Linked DNA regions of Homo sapiens. The protein of the gene in region 2 interacts with the protein of the main gene of each other region in a pairwise test. Each region holds a gene or a part of one and is shown on either strand. Other genes may lie near its edges.

Evidence for each region. Proteins that work in one complex are often made in the same cells at the same time.
Region 1: the proteins of SMCO4 (region 2) and MGST3 interact in binary tests that used the Homo sapiens proteins (3 or more experiments, as listed by UniProt).
Region 3: the proteins of SMCO4 (region 2) and KASH5 interact in binary tests that used the Homo sapiens proteins (3 or more experiments, as listed by UniProt).
Region 4: the proteins of SMCO4 (region 2) and MS4A3 interact in binary tests that used the Homo sapiens proteins (3 or more experiments, as listed by UniProt).

The regions. Positions count from the first base shown.
Region 1 is NC_000001.11:165,651,734-165,656,252, reverse strand, and holds the end of MGST3 (glutathione S-transferase 3, mitochondrial), read right to left. Parts: intron 4,276-4,519; coding exon 4,218-4,275; intron 1,975-4,217; coding exon 1,902-1,974; intron 886-1,901; coding exon 749-885; 3' UTR 117-748; downstream 1-116. UniProt on the Homo sapiens protein: Displays both glutathione S-transferase and glutathione peroxidase activities toward oxyeicosanoids, as part of cellular detoxification as well as synthesis of bioactive metabolites.
Region 2 is NC_000011.10:93,477,147-93,482,393, reverse strand, and holds the end of SMCO4 (single-pass membrane and coiled-coil domain-containing protein 4), read left to right. Parts: intron 1-3,109; coding exon of another isoform or gene 3,110-3,204; coding exon 3,205-3,384; coding exon of another isoform or gene 3,385-3,524; 3' UTR 3,525-3,922; downstream 3,923-5,247.
Region 3 is NC_000019.10:49,391,249-49,395,767, reverse strand, and holds part of KASH5 (protein KASH5), read right to left. Parts: intron 2,423-4,519; exon of another isoform or gene 2,369-2,422; coding exon of another isoform or gene 2,368-2,368; exon of another isoform or gene 2,349-2,367; intron 2,292-2,348; exon of another isoform or gene 1,936-2,291; coding exon of another isoform or gene 1,911-1,935; intron 1,293-1,910; coding exon 1,188-1,292; intron 663-1,187; coding exon 476-662; intron 1-475. UniProt on the Homo sapiens protein: As a component of the LINC (LInker of Nucleoskeleton and Cytoskeleton) complex, involved in the connection between the nuclear lamina and the cytoskeleton.
Region 4 is NC_000011.10:60,059,665-60,064,183, reverse strand, and holds part of MS4A3 (membrane-spanning 4-domains subfamily A member 3), read right to left. Parts: intron 3,039-4,519; 5' UTR 3,024-3,038; coding exon 2,868-3,023; intron 2,662-2,867; exon of another isoform or gene 2,630-2,661; intron 1,717-2,629; coding exon 1,579-1,716; intron 1-1,578. UniProt on the Homo sapiens protein: Hematopoietic modulator for the G1-S cell cycle transition. Modulates the level of phosphorylation of cyclin-dependent kinase 2 (CDK2) through its direct binding to cyclin-dependent kinase inhibitor 3 (CDKN3/KAP).

The sequences.
Region 1 (4,519 bases), on a different chromosome or scaffold from region 2:
ATTTGTACGTAGGCAATCAGATCTTTGTTTCTAAATGTAGCAAGTTACATTCATCTCTGTTAACCTTCATCTTACATTTAGTCTATTGCTTCAGTTTTTAAGCAACAGAAACAATCTTTAATAGAAACTTAATTTTTATTTATTTGAGACAGGGTCTTGCTCTGTCACCCACGCTGGAGTGCAGCAGTGTGATCATAACTCACTGCAGCCTTGACACCCTGGGCTCAAGTGATCCTCCCACCTTAGCCTCCCAAGTAGCTGGGACTGCAGACATGTGCCATCATGCCTGGCTAACTGTTGTATATTTTTTTGTAGAGATGGGGTTTTGCTATGTTGCCCAGGCTGGTCTTGAACTTTTAGGCTCAAGCATTCCTTTGGCCTTGGAGTATCTGTAGCAAGTGATAATGCATATCCTGAGAGCTAGAAGATTTTTCTTTAATTTTTCATCACTGTGGCATGACTATACCTACATCACCACAATCAGACTTTTTCTCAACCTCACATACTACAGAAGCATCTGCTGGAAGGGTGAGGAGAGGGCACAATACTTGTGGCTCCTTTCTCATCTAGTAGGACTAGGCTACTGATTTCAGATACAGACTCAAACGGAAATGAGTGGTAAGAGTCAGGAGTTTTAGGTATGAGGCTGATGCCAGGTAAGTTTTTATTATATTTAGAAAAAAAATGTAACTGGAAATAAAGGTAAGTCATTTAAAATGAATGAGAGTTTTTAAACCCCTATAATTCTTTAATGGCAGCATTTGGGTCCACTGCCCAAGCCACTTTTAACCCAACCAAGATGCTGGAAAGCAGAGCACACAGTTGTGCCCACCAAGCCCAGGAGGGCGATGGACCCCAGGGCTCCTCGACTACGCTTGCTGGGTTCTGAAAAAGAAGAAAGAACAGAAGTTACCAGGAGTGCTCCAGAATTATGATGCTTTCAACATTCGCAAGCCATTCTATCATCGCATCTGAGGTTGTACATTAGACAAACTGGCCTTAGGAGGTTAACTAACTCTTTAGCCTGAAGCTGTTGGCAAGTCAGATACCACATGCCAAGTAACGTGCCACAGTAGTATTGCTTGGATCTTAGAAAATTATGGGATAATAATTACAGCAACTTTGCTCTAGGACCTTTGGAAGGAGTTCCCTCTGTTTCAAAGAAGTACAGCTAAAAATGGCTTTTCCTCCTCCTTACTCAGATATAGGAGGTATAGTAATGGTGAGGCTCTGGAGTCGGACTGCATGGGTTTGATTCCTAGTTTACTAGTTTACGCTTAGTAGCTCTGTGACCTACAGCTTTAATCATGCTGAGTCCCAGTTTCCTAATTTGTAAAATGCAATAATATCTGTATTACAGAATTGTTGTAAGGTTAAATAACATATGCAAAGTTCTTAGAGTAGTGGTTGGCACATAGAAAATGCTCAATAAAAATAAGTTTCGTTACAATTGAAAGATTAATAAAAAGAAAACAGACCTTTCACCTAAATATCAGGTGACTTCCCCTTTTCTCAAATTCCCAAGAAAAAAAATATAGTAGCATAAGATTTTATTTTTTTTTGAGATAGGATCTTGCTCTGTCTCCCAGGCTGGAGTGTAGTAGTGTAATCATGGTTCACAGCAGCCTGAAACTTCTGGGCTGAAGCAATCCTCCCGCCTCAGCCTCCCAAGTAGCTGGGACTACAGGTGTGCACCACCACATCCGGCTAATTTTTGTATTTTTTGTAGAGACAGGGTTTCACCATGTTGCCCAGGCTGGTATCCAACTCCTGAGCTCAAGCAATCTGCCTGCCTTCGCCTCCCAAAGTGCTGGGATTACAGGTGTAAGCCACTGTGCCTGGCCAGCATAGGATTTAAAATTTTAAAGTTGTTTCCTTGGCAAATGTCAATATATACTAACCTCCCGTGTAATAGCCATAAGCATAAAGAACTCGTCCAACAATCCAGGCCAAGCCCAGGCCAGAAGCTATACGCTAAGAAAAAAGGGCTACATTAGTATTTGCATGAAAGAAACAAGCAAACCTTTTTTAACACCTAGGGTTGATTACACAATATGTTAGCAAAAAGTTAACAATTTGATGATTTGGCCAACTACTCCCCACGCAAATTAGGTAGAATTAAGTTAGTTTCAGCGGGAAAATAAAATATCTGTGATTCTTCTATGAATGGCTTGGCTTGTGGACCTGGGAGATGAGTATTGGCCTTCTCCTAGACAGGTGGGATAGAAGGAATCCCCCCACTTGCCCTGGGCATCTTGGGGAACTTGTGTCAGAGCTCAAGAGAAGGACATGTGGGCCAGCCGGTCTCAGGGCAGGCCAGAAAAGAGAACTGCCCCAAAGTCAGGACTAGGGGAAATGCCGTTTTCTCAAATGGGCCTCTGAGCATGAGATTGACTGAAGACTCAGCTGCTGTTCTATGTGAAGTCAGTCACTGGCAGGGCTGGGCTCAGGTGGTTCTGCAGGCTACACTGGGGGTGTAGCTCCACTAGAAAGAAGGGGAGCGCTTCTCCCAGAATACATGGTCTTCGAGGGAAAAGTCTCCCTGTTCCCAATGTCCTTGAGAAGAGAGAATAAAAACTTAGATGAAAAATCCATCCCTTTGGCTGTCATGCTGGGGTGACTTCCTTGGTTAAAATAAGCAAGGAGAGAACACAGAAGACAGCATGTGAGAAGGCCGCCTTCCCCAGTGTCTTTCCCACTCAGCAGTGCTACTGTTAGGGATAAGGTTACTGCATCAGGGTTTTTGTTTGTTTGAGTTGATTTTGGGTAACATTAAATGTCAACAGGAGGGTGAAACAAATGAAAATAACACCAGTCCCTCAAGTCACGATATAGCAGCTCTAGTCTCTGCCAGGCCCTTCTTTACTATAATGTTGCCTAATGACTGGCAACCTAGGAACAATTGTTAGGTGCTTGTCCCCAAACTAGCTCTTATTTTTCAGAACTACCCATAAGGAATGGGATCCAGGGATGTGTGATAGGAATGGGGATGGAGTGGGGACACCAAATGAGGACTAATCTAGAGACCTGAGCTATTCAGATCAGCTAGTCTAGTCACTTGCTAGGAATGGGGATCTTTAGAGGCACCAGAAAGATACATTTTCTAAGAGATACAAGAGCAGTAGATGTTTCTTTGAAAAAAATGCAGGCCTTCAAGGTCATAAGCAGTAGATATGCCATTCTGGCAGCTTTTTAACAAAAGTACAAGGCATTCAGGATGAACCAGATGGTTAGGAAAGGCTTAGAACCAGAAGTCTGAAGGGCCACTCTGGTCAGAACTTGGTTTCAGGAGATAATCTGTCCTCAGAAAAGGGGAACACTTCTGTCTAAGACAAGACCCAAATGGCAATTAATTAGAGGCTGATAAACTTGCTTTATTTAGATATGTTTAAGTGCAGACTAAATCTCCATCCCACAGGGCTATCTATACTGCAGAGGCCTGCAAGTCCCCAGTGACCTGCCTCATCACCCCTCTGCCCTCTGTTGCTGCCCCTCTCCTGGCTCCATTGGCTTCTCACTGCTCACCAAACAAACCAGACAGGTGCCTGCCTCAGGCCTTGCTTGTCTTCTGGCTGGAGGTTGGGGAAACTCGTGCAGCACCTGCTCCCTCACCTCCTTTTATACTTGCTTAACTATCATCTCAGCAAAGCCCCCCTCCCTGACCACCCTATTCAAAATTATCCCACTCCACATCCCCTTTCCACCTTCCCCACTTTGTTTTCTTCTCTGCACTCACCACCTCCTAACACATGATGTAATTTACTTAGGTTGCTTCTTCTCTGTGACCACCCCACACCCCACAACAAAAAGGCAAGCTCTATGAAACCAGGGGTCTTTGTCTGCTTTGATCACTGCTTTACCCCAGGTGGTGAGTGAAAGTTTGTTGTGTGAATGAATTACTATAACAAATGAACTCTTATAGACATGAAACTTAGAACCAGACAGACCTGAGTTCAAATTCTAATCCTTCTACTCTGTAGCTATTTGACCTTGTGAAGTTTAAATAGTATATGAGAGGCTTTTCCTTATCTGTAAAATATGAGGAAAATCCCATCTCCTTTAAAGAACTCTGTAAGAAATAATTGAATAAAATCCTTTTAAATATGCAGTGCCTAGACACTGAAGATATTCATTAAATGTTTATTTCCTTCTTCTGTCCCTGATAATAGCTCAGTGAACTACTATCCAAATAGATGAACACCTCCTGGAAAACTTACCGGGTGGTAAACACCTCCAACAGCTAGAAAAAATAAGAAGGGAGGATACACTTCCAACCTGGAATTGACAGAAAGAAACTTTTAAAAAGTGCCCTTTTTAAGTATGCCTGTGTAGAATTATGAATTTTTTTTTTTTTTTTTTTGAGACGGAGTGTCTCTGTCACCCAGGCTGGAATGCAGTGGCATGATCTCAGCTCACTGCAACCTCCGCCTCCCGGGTTCAAGTAATTCTCATGCCTCAGCTTCCTGAGTAGCTGGGATTACAGGTGCGTGCCACCATGCCTGGCTAAGTTTTGTAGAGA
Region 2 (5,247 bases):
TCCATGACGATGTCTAAGAAGCATCCTCACATGCAGAGCACTCAATGCGCTTCTTGAGTCCGCCCTTCCCCAGTGCCCATGCCCTCCCTGGCTCAGGCCACTCTGCCCTCTGCCTGGTGCTCTTCCCAGCTTTTTTCCTGGTTGGTCCCTTTTCACCATAGGGTCCCCTCCCCAGTCGTTATCTCAGAGATGCTTTCCCTTGCTGCCCCAGCTCACAGGTGAGTGAGAGCAGAGACGCTGCTCCTCCTGAAGCCTGATGAAGTACCCAGGATTCAGACGGGCATGTTTGCCCTTTAAATCCTGACCAGACCGGCCCTGGCCCCAGCAGCTTGAGGCTTTTTTCCATGCCTCCAGGAACTTCTGAATGCATCTTACAAATGTTGAGAACTGGTCATTGTGGAGGCTGGGGCCTTTGAATGTCAACTACACTTGTGTGGGTGGATGCAGACAGCAGCATGAAGTGCAGGAGGGAAGTCAGGCCCAGCACTGCTAGCCAGCCAGCCAGGGCATGGCTAGCCCCAGGCCTGGGGTGCCACCTGCCAGTCCTGTGAGGAATTTGGGAGAGACAGCAGCGGGCTCCGACAGGCCATTAGCTCCACAAGGAAATGGCCACGAATCAGAGTGCTGCTAATGGCTTGTTTCTTTTTAAACAATTTTTTTGAGGCCGTGTCGGAGAGAATAGGCTGCCATTTGCAGCTTTGAACAGGAATGCTGTCCATTGCTCTGTTAGAAGCCATGGGGTATTTACAAACTGGGTGACTGTTGGCAAGACATTTTTCCCCTTTGCTCCTTGGTTTCCTCCCTTCCGTGATGGGGATAATAAAGCCTGTCTGTCTGACTCACAGGGCCGTTGGGGTGTGTTCCAGGTGTTGGTATGTCAGCTAGCACGAATTCGCCGCCCGCTCTGTGCCAAGCCCTGAGTTATACAGCTTCCTACTCCATCCTCACCACGGTCCCGCGAAGGTGGGCATCACTCAAGGCTGCAGTCAGGCTTAGAGGAGCTCAGTGCACCCGTCCCTGGGCCGCCCACGGGTATGGGTGGAGATGTCTCAGCCCACCTGTACCGCGTCCCTGCGGGCGGGCAGAGCTCTGGGTACAGATGCATTTGTTTTCCAGATTCTCACAGTCATCCTTTAAGACAAGCTGTTCTCATTGTTCAGATGATGGCATGGAGGCCTAGTGGAGTTAAGTGACTTGCTCAAAGCCATTTAGCCTGTAAGTGATTGGTCCTGGATTTGAAGGCAAGTCTGCCTGGAAGTCCTTTGGAAGACTTGAAAAGGAGAATTGGTAAAGCCAGGGGTTCCTATACCTTTCAGGCCTTAAGAAAGTAATAGTAGGTGTTTTTTTTTTTCTCTCTGTTCCTTATTTCATGAAGGAAATTATACATTTGCCCAAATGGCGCTTCCCTTAATATTTGCTGAACCTTAATGTTTGCTTTTGATTGGCATTATGCCATCCTAGCACAATAATATTTGTCATCTCATACCTTAGGAAACTCTGCCTGATTTTGAATGATACAAAAAAGGTTTTGGGGTCTAAATGGAGTGAGAGGAATGGTAAGAGATTAAGTATCCCTCATAAAAACAGGATGGTGTCAGTAAGACCTTTCCCAACTCTGAGTTCACATTCTACCACCTCGGTCACTTAGGTGTAAATGTCATCTTCCTCCTCAAGATGATGACAGGCCACCCACTACCCTGGGACAAAACAGGGCAGACAGTATACAGCATAGGTCCCTCTGCTAGAGGAACATTGGTATTCAGTGCTCTTCTGCTTCCAAGAACCCCTCACTCCATGCTACTCTCCGAGAATATTGTAATGGACATCTGCCTTTGATATAGCCCTGATACCCAACCCCACTCCGTCACTGTGTTTGAAAAGTACTCTTCCTGCTGTACAAATTGGAAGGCTAGGCTGTGGGCATATGGGCCGGGGCTTGGCTAGTCACACATGCATGGAAGCTGGTGATGCAGAATGCTGGGGGGTGGCGAGTTCATCTGGAGACTGTGCCAGCAGCCACATCTAGTTTTTGGGGGTGGTCATGGTGGCTCGGCACCTCCTGCTCCAGTGCCCATGTCCAGTGCTGACGGTGGTGATGCAGGCTCTGGCATCCTCACACTGGGAGTGTGAGTTGGGCTCCAGTTATGGCAGCACAGCATAATGTCCTGCCCATTTTCTGAGCCTGGTTCTTTGGCTTTTCTGGGAATCAGTGAGATGCCAAAGGCCTTTAAGTAAACTCGATTTAAATCAGCTGAAGTCTGCTTCATCTGCTTAAAGCTAAGAAGCCGACTTTTATAGAGATGTTCCTCTGTAGTTATCCAAACATTTGTATTCATTCTTCTGGCCCCTGAAAGTTCTACTTCACCTGTTAGGCACCTCCGTGAGCTACAGAATTAACAGGAGAATCCCAGGTTGAGTGGGTGGCAGGACTGTGGGCTCAGCCGTCTCCCTTCATTATTACTGTGACCCGGGTCTCCATCATGCCCCCTAGACGGTGACCTCTGTGGGGACACAACTGAGTCCTTCATCTCTATCCTCAGCTCCTTGAGTAATGCTTGGCACACGGTGGGTGCTTGGGAAGGTTTGGATGAATGGGCCAAGGAACCAACAAAGAGATGAGAGAAGTTGATGCCTGTGGGCTCTCTGCAGCCTTAATGAGGCTGGCCTGGCTTGGGCAGGAAGGGGGCTACGTGCCTGGAGACTGCAGGCTGCCTGCAGTTCCATGCTGGAGATGGGCTGGGGAGATCATGGAACTTAGAGCAGGAAAGCAAGTAGCTAGAGCCACGAAAGGGAGAGCCGCTCCTCTGAGTGGAGGCGGCGTAGTTGGTGCTTCCCAATCCTTTCACCTCATGGCATGTACAGAACACAGTATTATTTGTCTGGTACCCAGGGCTTTGTCCAGCTGGCGCTGGAGCGGAGGCCCCTCTCACAGCACACCGGTGACCCAGTGCCCACTACTTAGAGCGCTGATCCCAAGAGAACTTAGAGCCTGGTGTGGCCTCTGTTCTTAGCCCTTTGTCATGTAAGTTGCAGATATTTTTCCTAGTTGTGTATTTGCCTTTAAGTGATTTATTTTTTCTTCTATTTGGTTTATTCTCTACTATCACAGTTGTTCTCTCTACAGGAGGTTCCAGCCTTGGCAAGAGGAGTGTGGCCCTTCCTGGAATCCCTCTGGACACACCCTCCTAGCATCCTCTAGGAAAGATGCGGCAGCTCAAAGGGAAGCCCAAGAAGGAGACCTCCAAGGACAAGAAGGAGCGGAAGCAAGCCATGCAGGAGGCCCGGCAGCAGATCACTACAGTGGTGCTGCCCACGCTGGCCGTGGTCGTGCTCTTGATCGTGGTGTTTGTGTACGTGGCCACGCGCCCCACCATCACCGAGTGAGCCCCGCAGCCGGCTGCGGACCCCATCGGCAGGGAGAGGAGGCGCGGGAGGGGGACGCAAACAAAAAATGGCTTTCATATTCAGAGATGTTCATGTTGCTGAGCTGTAAGCAGGAGCACCCTGTCTTCTCTGGTCTTTGACTTGATTAAAGTATCTCCGCTTTCTTGGGAGGGAATAGGGGATGTTTTATCAGTGAATGTGCCATACACCTTATGGTCCACTTCATGTGCCTTTCAGACTTCAAAGCGCGCGCGCATGTGTGTGTGTGTGTGTGTGTGTGTGTGTGTGTGTGTGTGCTTCTTTTTCTCTCCTAAAAATCGATAAGTAGCTCCACCTGAAGAGGGATGGAACCTCTGGGTCAGGAAACAGCTGGAATCCACACTCACCTCATTCCCATTGTTTGGATCATGCTTCTTTCCAACACGTGTTCACAATCTCCAAAGGGACTGTATTTCTTCTCTGTGCTTAATGTGATTTGAAATATGTTGAATCAAAGTGAAATATTTATTTTTTGAATAAAGGAGATAATAGCCTTAAACTGGATGCTTATCATGTTTTGCAAGGAGGTGCTGTCTGTGGGTCTCCCCCTGCCCACGGGTCTGCCCCTCTTCCCTCCCCTTCCCTTTCTCCTGTGGCTCTCTCCACCTTCCCCAGCACTCCCTCTGCTCATCATTTCTGAGTAAAATTATGCTTTTTGACCGATAATTTTAAGATGGAGAGGGACAGAAAGGGTATATTAATTGGCTTGCTTTAGAAAGTGAGAGTTCTAATTAGACTGTGACGACAGGTGCTTTTTACACCAGTTAGTTTTTCCTACTTCAACTCGGTATGTTTGTGCAAACAGCAATACAGAGTGATCCTGGAAGTAAAGGTCAGGCTTGGTTTTGTTCTTAGCTGAAAGGATGCAAATTGTTGGCATTCCAGCTGAGTTTTCAATGCAAATTGGCTGGAATGGTTGCCTCATTTTATTCTAACAGCACTGCTCAGGCGGTCCTGGTTCCTGATGGAGCAGCCTCTTTTTGGAAGTCAGATTCATGGTTACTGTTCTGAGGATGTCTGTTTTCCTGTCATTGCTGATTATGGAGATCTGTGGGGAGAGAAGTGCTTTTCCTAATCCCCGTGGCTGCGCGACTCGCTCACAGATGGCAGAGGCTGTTAGTGGAGATTTGGGGCCTCTTGGAGTGAGTCTCTCTGGAAGACGAAGCAGCTATTGAAAGGAAGGACTTCTCTGGCTGATGCCTGGAGAGCCTGGACTCAGCAGGCTGACAGAGCTCTGCGGCCCCGCTCTGTGAGCTGGTCTCAGAGAGACTCCGTGTCTCCTCATGCTCACTCAAGGGCCAATGGCCCTGGTAAGAGATTTGCTAAAATACTTGCCAAATTCAGAGGCTGCTAGCATCAAGTTCCTCTGAGGTTTCTGTTTTCCTCCCCTTTATTTGGTTCTGTTATGAACTTCAGTGCTTGCTGGTCTGAGAAAGACTGCAGGCCACTGTCCCAAGGACTTTCTCATTCAGGGGCTGGAGGGTGGAGGAAGGCGTCTGCGGCCATCCCTGCTCCTCACAGGGGCTGCTGTGCGGCTGATGAGTCCCCTTCCCAGGGCAGATGCTGTGAGGATGGAGCAAGGACAGCCTGTCCACTCCAGCAGAAAGACCCCAGTCTGCATGTCTTGCAATTACCTGATCAGCATTTAGTTCCCAGTCTACCACTCAGAATTGTGGATTACTTAACCCCACTGAACCTCAGTTTCCCTGTCTGTAAAGAACTGGTAAAGTCACTTTCAGGAAGGTGAGCCCTAGTAGAAAATAAGGCTTTTAGAACAAACTTGGGTTTTGGTGCAGATTTTGCTGCTGGAACCCCTCTGAGTCC
Region 3 (4,519 bases), on a different chromosome or scaffold from region 2:
TGTATCAAAGGGATGAGGCTTAGCGCCCCACTGTAGCTGCCCCTCAGTCCTCACCAGCCACAGGCAGGGGGATTGCAGGTGGGAGGAGGGGACCGGGTCAGGTGAGAGCTGGCACCACAGGGTAGGAGGGTGAGGCCAGATGGCAAGTGCCCGTGGCCAGATGGAAAAGCAGGAGGGGCAAGGAGTGGGTTTGGTGAAGGGTTGGGGAGGGACCTCTGTCAGCCCCAAACTCCTCCCTTCTCCAGCCCCATTTTATTTCTGTCTCCCAGACCCCCTCTGCTTCCTCATCCAAATTATTTTGTCCTCAGACTCCCTATCTACCCCCTCTGAATCCCGTCTCTTCATTTTTCTCTCCACAGCCTCATTCCAAACACAGTAGGTCCTTGGGCCTAAAGGATGCTGGCTCCAGTAAGCAGGTATGAGGTTAGATCTTAGGAAGGACTTCCCAGAGGAGGATGAAGATGTGGGGACTCACCCATGTAGTTGACAGGCAGCAATCCAGTCACGCATGACAACCAGGAAAGTGTCCAAGTCCACAGTGGCCTTAGGGCCCTCCCCATTGGGGTCCAGGCTGTTGGCCAATGTTTGGAGGCGTGCATCCTGGGGGCCCTGGCCTGTCACAGCCTCCAGGTAGGCCAGCACCTGGGCCACAGCCACAGTGCCTGTGACAGAGCATGCAGTGAGGGGGTCTGGGGCAGGTGGGGAGTGATGGGTATGGACTGGCAGCAGCTTGGGACCAGGATGTCACTGGCTAGGCTGGTGGCACTCCTGCTCCATGGCCCAGTGGAGACACACTGGGCAAGCCCTTTCCCCTCCTCTGAGTCCACTTTTTCACCTGGAAATGGGGCCCAGTCATCCCCCCATCACAGGGTAAACCAAAGGGGATGGACATAGGGACAGCATCAGCCATGCCCCACGCCACCATGGTGGCTGCCTCCCTCCCCTATCCCACGACCCCAAAACTCTGCCCTCTTCCATCAACGTCCCCCAAGTTTTCCTCATTCTAAAAGGCCTTCACCCCATTATCCACGTTCTTCTTCCTGAAGCTTCCCATAATCACCCACTTTGTTCTTACAATACCCCCAAGAGGGGGCCTTAGCCCAGTCTTCTCTCTGAGGCTCCCCAGTTCCCAGCCTCCACCCCATCCTGCCCGCACTGGTCCCCAGCACCCCTCATGCCCCCACCACCTGTCCTCTGAGGGTCACAAGCTTCGAACGTGGAGTTGAGTATTTGCTCCTCCAAGCTGACCGGCATTCCCAGCCTTGCCTCCTCAGGCCGCTCCCGGAGGTACACTGGGGAGACAAGAGGGCTCAGCTCACCAGTGGGAAGAATAAGGAAGGAAGAGGGGTGACCCCAGGTCCTCAGCCTCCTGGGCTCTGTAGCGGGGAGGGAATTCACTCAGAGCACTGAGAGTTCGGGCGGGTGGGGAACAGCAGGAAGCTTCAGGAGGGGGCAACAATGTGAGGGTCTCTGAGTTACTTCCCCCCATCTTTCAAACCAGGAAGTCCCCCCTGCTGTCTTTTTGTGTCCAATTGGCTTAGGAGCCCAGAGAAGAACGCTCTGAGATCACCCTTTCCTCCTCTCCTCTCCAGCCTCCCAGGCTGGACTCAGAGAGGGACAGGGTCGGGGAGGGCAAAGAAGAGAGGATTCTGGGAGGAGCTGAGAGTGAAGGGGGGGCCCAGGAGCCAGGAACAATCCAATAATGCATGGGCAGCCCAGATCGATCCCGCCTGCTGCATCTCCGGTCTCCCAGCCCACCCTGGGGACCAGGTCTCTCTCCTCCCTGCATCCCTAAGGCAAGGGTGGCATCATTGGAGCCCATGGCCAGGGGCTGAGACATGAAGGGATAGGGTAAACCAGACAGGGTGGGCAGTGAGGGAATGGTTATGAGCTGGATCAGTGTGTCAGACCTGGGTGCAGAGTCCAGCTGCACATCTGTGGGCAAGTCTCTTCTGTTAGAGCCTCGGTTTCCCTACTGGGGGGGTGGGTAGAGTGATCCTCCTCACCAGGGCTGAGTTAGCTCTGTGTATGTGAAGCACACGCATGTACACACACACACACACACACACACACACACACACACACGTCCTGGGGTCTATTTGTCTACTGTTGTAGCCACAACACCTGCAGATGGCAGGTGCTCAACAAATGCTCCATGACATAGGAAGAGATCCTCAACTGCAGGAGCCACTGGGCTGGCCCAGCCTCTCTCCCAGGGCTGGAAGTGAACTTCTAGGCTCCCTGCCCTGGCCTTGAACAGCTGGGTGCAGCAGCTCACTGAGCACAGGCTGCAGGACGGGGTAGATCCAGGGGGCAACCGAGGCTTGGCCTCAGACAAGTGGTGGCACCTGGGGCAATGGACTCAACTTCTCTTGGGCCTCAGTTTCTTCCTCTGGAAAATGGGGTTGGTGTTACCTCTTTCCTAGAGAGAAAATGAGATACAATCTAGAAAGGCTTTGGCAGAAGGCCTGGCACGTGGTGGGGACTCAAGAATAGAATTGAACACTTATTGAGCATTTAGTAGGTGCCAGGCCTTTTCTGAGCACTTTACATGAACTGTCTACTAGCATAATAATAATCGATGCTATTATAATCCCTACTTTACAAATGAGGGGACTAAGGCATAGAGAAACTAAGAACTCGCCAAAGGTCACCCTGTTTAACATATGAGTCAACTTTCTCATCCCTCTAACTCTTCCAGGATTCTCTGCAGTGAGTGAAATTTGCACCCCCTCTGTCTTGAACCTATGCTCCTAGGTTTGGCCCTTGGGAAGGGGCGTGTGGACTCACAGTTAGGGGGAGACCAGGGCTTTAGCCCCAGTCTGTTTTCCTCCTCTCACTGTTTTTTTTTTTTTTGAGATGGAGTCTCGCTGTGTCACCCAGGCTGGAGTGCAGTAGCGTGATCTCCGCTCACTGCAACTTCTGCCTCCAAGGTTCAAGCAATTCTCCTGCGTCAGCCTCCCGAGTAGCTGGGATTACAGGTGCCTGCTACCAGGCCCAGCTAATTTTTGTATTTTTAGTAGAGATGGGGTTTCACCCTGTTGGCAAGGCTGGTCTCGAACTCCTGACCTCAAGTGATCCGCCCACCTTGGCCTCGCAAAGTGCTGGGATTACAGGTGTGAGCCACCATACCCAGCCCTCTCAGTGTCTTTCTCATGTTACATGAACGAGGACCCTGAGGCCCAATGAGATGGTTCACCCAGGGCTGCTTGCCAGAGAGAGCTAAGCTGGGAATAGAACTCAGGACTGGCATCAGGTCGTGCTGGCTCTGAGGATCAGCATGTGTCTGAAGTCGCATCCCAGGATTCCCCCAGGGAGATGTCATTTCTGTTCCTCAGGAAGATCTCCTTCCTCAGTGTCTCTATCTCCTCTATGTCTCTGTCCTTGCCTCTTCGTTACATTTCTCTTTGGCTCTTTCTCTCTATCTTTCTCCCAGTCTCTCTTCCCCACGTCCTGTCTCTCTGCCTCCATGTCGCTTGTCCCCGTTTTCTTCCCTGTATCTCAGTCTCTGTGCTTCCCTTCCCATATCTCAGAGACTCTCCATTCCCTAAGTCTTCTCTTTCCTTCCTCTGCTGTTTCTTTTTCCCTTTGCCTTCCTCTGTCTCCATCTCTCCTTCTGGGTGTGTTCCTACCTTTCCTTCCAGAGCCTCTCGAAGCTGTCTCAGCCCTTGCCACCCGGATCCTGGTGGCTGCACGCCCTCTGCTGGTGCAGGTGAAGTTTAGATGGCTGTCACTAGACAGCCTGTCCTCTGGTTCCCACACCCTGGTGTCTACCTCTGACCCTCCTATCTGGAAAGCCTCCTGAGGTCTGGGGCTTTGTAGAAAAAGACGCAGGCTGTGCCGTGGATGCCTGGGAGCCTCTAAGAAAGGGGCCCTACCATCCCCATCAGACTGGGCTCTCTCACTTGGCAGATGAGTTTCAGAGAGGCAACCCCAGTGCCTCCTCCCCACCCTCTGAAGCCAGCTTTCACACCCGTTCAACCTACATCCGTCCGTTCACTCAACAGTAAGTGAGCTCCCACAGTGAGTCAGGAGTTGCTCTGGGGTCCCAGCCAACAGGGCAGTCTCTCCTTCTGGAGCACCTGAACTGAGGCGAGTGTAGACTGAAATGCTCTGTTAGTGTAAAGTACACGCTAGATCTTTAGGGCTTAGTATGAAAAAAACAGATTATCTGGATACATTTTTTATATTGGCTATATATTGGCTATATACATATATATATCTCTATGTATGTATATCCTGTATACATATATAATATACAGGGTATTAGTCTGGCTATATAAGGAAAATCCATTATCAACATTCATTTCACCTGTTCCTTTTTTCTTTTAAAAAATAATAAATTACCTATGTGGCTCATATTATACTTCCACAGGACAGCGCTGCTCTAGGGACTGGGAATACCAGAGTGAATAAAACAGACGCTGCCTTGTGGAGCTCATGCTCTAGCAGGGGAGACAGAGACAAAACATGACATACAGATGTGAGCACTGTGAAGAGAAATGAAGCGGGGCAGGGG
Region 4 (4,519 bases), about 33 Mb from region 2:
CAGATATCCAGCAATAGTCATACAAACCTCCCTTTTAAATTCACATCCTAGGACACAGAATTGTACTTGATGCTGCTCACTTTATTTATTTATTTATTTATTTATTTATTTATTTAGTCTTTCCATGCAATTAGTTTTATTCATTTTATTTTTTAAATTTTTTTTATTTCCATACGTTATTGGGGAACAGGTGGTGTTTGGTTACATGGATAAGTTCTTTAGTGGTAATTTGTGAGATTTTGGTGCACCCATCACCCAAACAGTATACACTGCACACAATTTGTAGCCTTTTATCCCTCACCTCCTTCCCACCTTTCCCCCTGAGTCCCCAAAGTCCATTGTGTCATTCTTATGCCTTTGCATCCTCATAGCTTAGCTCCCGCTTATAAGTGAGAACATATGATGTTTGATTTTCCACTCCTGAGTTACTTCACTTAGGATAATGGCTTATGCAAGGATTTAATGACGAAGAAGCCAAAAACAAATGCAATAAAATCAAAGATAAATAGCTGGGACCTAATTAAACTAAGGAGCTTTTGCACGGCAAAAGGAACAGTCAGCAGAGTAAACAGACAACCCATAGAGTGGGAGAAAATCTTCACAATCTATACATCTAACAAAGGACTAATATCCAGAATCTGCAATGAACCCAAACAAATCACCAAGAAATAAACAAACAATCCCATCAAAAAATGGGCTAAGGACATGAATAGACAATTCTCAAAAGAAGATATACAAATGGCCAACAAACATATCATTCACTTTTTAAAAATGAACCATCAGGGAAGTAATAAATAATCAAAACTGAATGAATACATTTTAAAATCACCCCTATTTCTTCTGATTGAATGTTGACCCAGATAATGGAAATGATTCTTCTGACTTTCAGACAGTAATCAGCAGACAAATTTCTTAACTCTCAAGCCAGGACTCTCTGCTGTACCACAAGGCAATTCATCAATACCCATTTTTCATTCAATTTTTTAAGTATCTATAAATGTAACATATAGTTATATATAAGATAATTTTTAGGACTTCATTTGTACTTGGCAAATGTGGTTTCTCTTAATCAGAAAGAGATTTTTGGCCTGGCATCAGGGCTCATGCCTGGCAATTCCAGCATTTTGGGAGGCCAAGCTGGGAGGACCACTTGTGGTCAGGAGTTCGAGACCATCCTGGAAAACATGGTGAATCCCTGTCTCTACTAAAAATACAAAAACAAAAATTAGGTGGGCATGGTGGTGCATGCCTGTAATCCCAGCCACTCAGGAGACTGAGGCAAGAGAATCACTTGAACTGGGGAGGCAGAGGGTTTCAGTGGGCAGAGATCATGCCACTGCACTCCAGCCTGGATGGCAGATCGAGACTTTGTCTCAAAAAATAAATTAATTAAGTAATTAATTAAATTAAAAAATAAAAAAGAGTTTATCGTCTCTAATTGTTTATATCAAGAATTGCAAATCAAAACCACAGCATGCAACCTTCCAATAACCTACAAACAATATTTTTGTCATCAAACACATCTCCAGCAGTGGTATCTAAGAAATAACATATAGCCAGGGGAGTACGAATACTCACAAACACAGCACCCCAAATCGGGTAGCCTGTGTAGAAGGTGAAGAAAAAGAAGTGCTTTTGGAAGTGGTATGGGTATTGCAAGGAACCCAGAAAGACACCCAAAGCCAGAATCATTGCTGCATTCAGGATCTGGATGGCCTGAAAGAAGAAAGGGGAAAAAGGCGTAACAGTCATATACTAAAGTGGACACTGAAAACAGGCCATTTTAATTTTCCTCAGAAAGGAGATGTCGGTGCTTGAAATGGTTAAAGTGTCAAGCCTAAATTAACAGAACGAGAGCTTATCTGAAAGAGTTTTTTATTCCACGCTATCCACACCAATTCCAGTGGCAGCATTTTGTCTTCACCTCTCCCCCACATTTCTGTTCATTCTCACGAACTCCTCTCAGAAAGTGGCAGGACAGTAAAACAGACATGATTGGTAAGGTAGATGGAGTCAAAGTCTCTTCCCAGCATGCTTTTGCATCATAATATGATGAAGGCAGACAGAGGATAAGCCATATCCTACTCAGCCTTTCTCTCAACCCAATTTTTAACCCTTCTCTCAACCCAATTTTTAAATTTAAAATATAGAATATAAGCTTCATAGAGCTCAGCCTCCTCAAATGGCTGGTCAAAAGGCACAAAACAAAAAATGAAGGGTCTTGGAATCTGTTCTCCAAGGTTTGATGTTTTCTACCATGAGAAAATGCCTTTGCATTTCTGCTCCCCAGATCTATAAGAAGTCCCTGTCTTTTCTCCAATCATTATTAAGTCAGTGATAAATAACTCAGAATTTCCTCCTTCTCAGCATAAGCAAGGTTTTCTACATGATACAGTTGGCTCTTGAACAACATTGGGGTTTGGAATGCCCACCCTTTCATGGTGGTAAATCCACGTAAAACTTATGACTTCCCAAAAACTTAACTACTAATAGCCTACTGTTGACCAGAAGTCTTACTATTAATATAAACAGTCGATTATCACATATTTTGTATGTGACATATTATATACAATAAGCTAGAGAAACTAAAAACGTTAAGGAAATCATAAGAAAGAGAAAATGTATTTACTATTCATTAAGTGGAAGTAGATTATCATAAAGGTCTTCATCCTCATCCTCTTCACGTTGAATAGACTGAGGAAGAAGAGGGAGAGCAGGGGTTGTTCTTGCTGTCTCGGGATGGCAAACAGAGGTGGAAGAAATCCACATGTAAGGGAATCCTCACAGTTCAAACGCACGTTATTCACAGGTCAACTGTATTTATTTTCTTCCCTCTTAAATCAGTGTTTAAACTAAGGCTGACTTACCCCAAGAACTTGTAATTTTGCTTTCTGATAATCTGGTGATCCATCTATGGGCTGGTAGACAGAAGTATTCAGCTCTTCTGGTCCCGCCTCACTGCCTGGGGTACCATGGGCAGAGGCTGACCCCAGCTCTGCATTATCAACTTCGTGGGAGGCCATTGGGGTTGTTTATGGCTGTGATAGAAAAGAAATCCAAAGCCTTCATGCTTTCCCTTTTTCCACTAGCTACTAAAATTTTGAGTGTTACAGAAGGGTTCAATTCTGTCCATACATTACAATGACTCTCCACAAATGGGACACCAGGGCAGAGTAACAGAGTTTGTACAATATTCAATTCTGTCTTGCCTTGGAGTAGTAGACATCATCGGGTCATTGTAGTAGGCCTTGGTGCTTCACTTAACTTTGGAATGGTAAAGAGCAATTTCTTTCTCATTTTGCATGCACTGATATATAGTCCCTGCCTTTCTTCAAGTCAGTCAAGGGCAACCAGACATATGGTTTCTCTGAGCAGTGGTCTCTTTATAAGAATAATGGCTTTAGTCACATTCCAGTAATAATAGTAGGTGTCATTTATTTAGTACTTATTACTATATGCCAAGCACTGTCTGGATGCTGTGAATGTATTAATATACTTAATCCTGTTATAATATTATTATTATTCCCGTTTCACAGATGAAAAAAATTGAGGTATAGAGAGACCGAGAAACTTACCCAAACTCATATGGCTTATAAATCATTTCAGATTTTACTAAAAACATTCTACTCTAAGGTCCAATATTTTTCAAATCACCACATTATATAGTACTATATAGAAGACGTCTTTCTGAGTACCAACATAGCATGGTAGAGTTTAAGCACTATGGAAGATCCAAATTCAAATCCAGATTTCATCATTTACTAGTTGCATGACCTAGTAATGGGAACCTCAGTTTTCAGAGTTTAAGCACTATGGAAGATTCCAATTCAAATCCAGATTTCATCACTTACTAGTTGCATGACCTTGTAGTGGGAACCTCAGTTTTCACTTCTGTAAAAATGGGAATAATTTTAATTTTATATTAACATTGCGAGAGTTGACTTTGATAATGTACGGAATTCTCAACCTGTGAACAGGTGGTATCAGCTTTTAACTTATACTCTGCCTTCTAACAAAAAGGACTTCAAGTTTGTATATATATAAGGGTCACAAAACAACCACCTCAATCATTACAGCTGAAAAATATGTATCACTAAAGTACACACAGAATGCTTACATTGGACTTCTGAATGTTGGGCAAGATAACTTCCTAATTCATAGTACCCTCCTACACAAAATAGTTGTAAAATGCTTATATGCTTTTATAACTGATGAGGGAGATGGCATGAGATGAACCATAAACAAACACATAAAATGATGCTGTATTCTGCCATAACTATCGATTGGGTTAAGAATAAGATCTTAATATAAATCATTCTACCATAAAACACATGCACGTGAATGTTCATTGCAGCACTATTCACAATAGCAAAGACATAGAATCAACCTAAATGTCCATCATTTGTAGACTGGATGAAGAAAATGTGGTACATACACACTGTGGAATACTATGCAGCCATAAAAAGGAATGAGATCATGTCTTTTGCAGGAACATGGATGAAGTAGAAGCCATTATCCT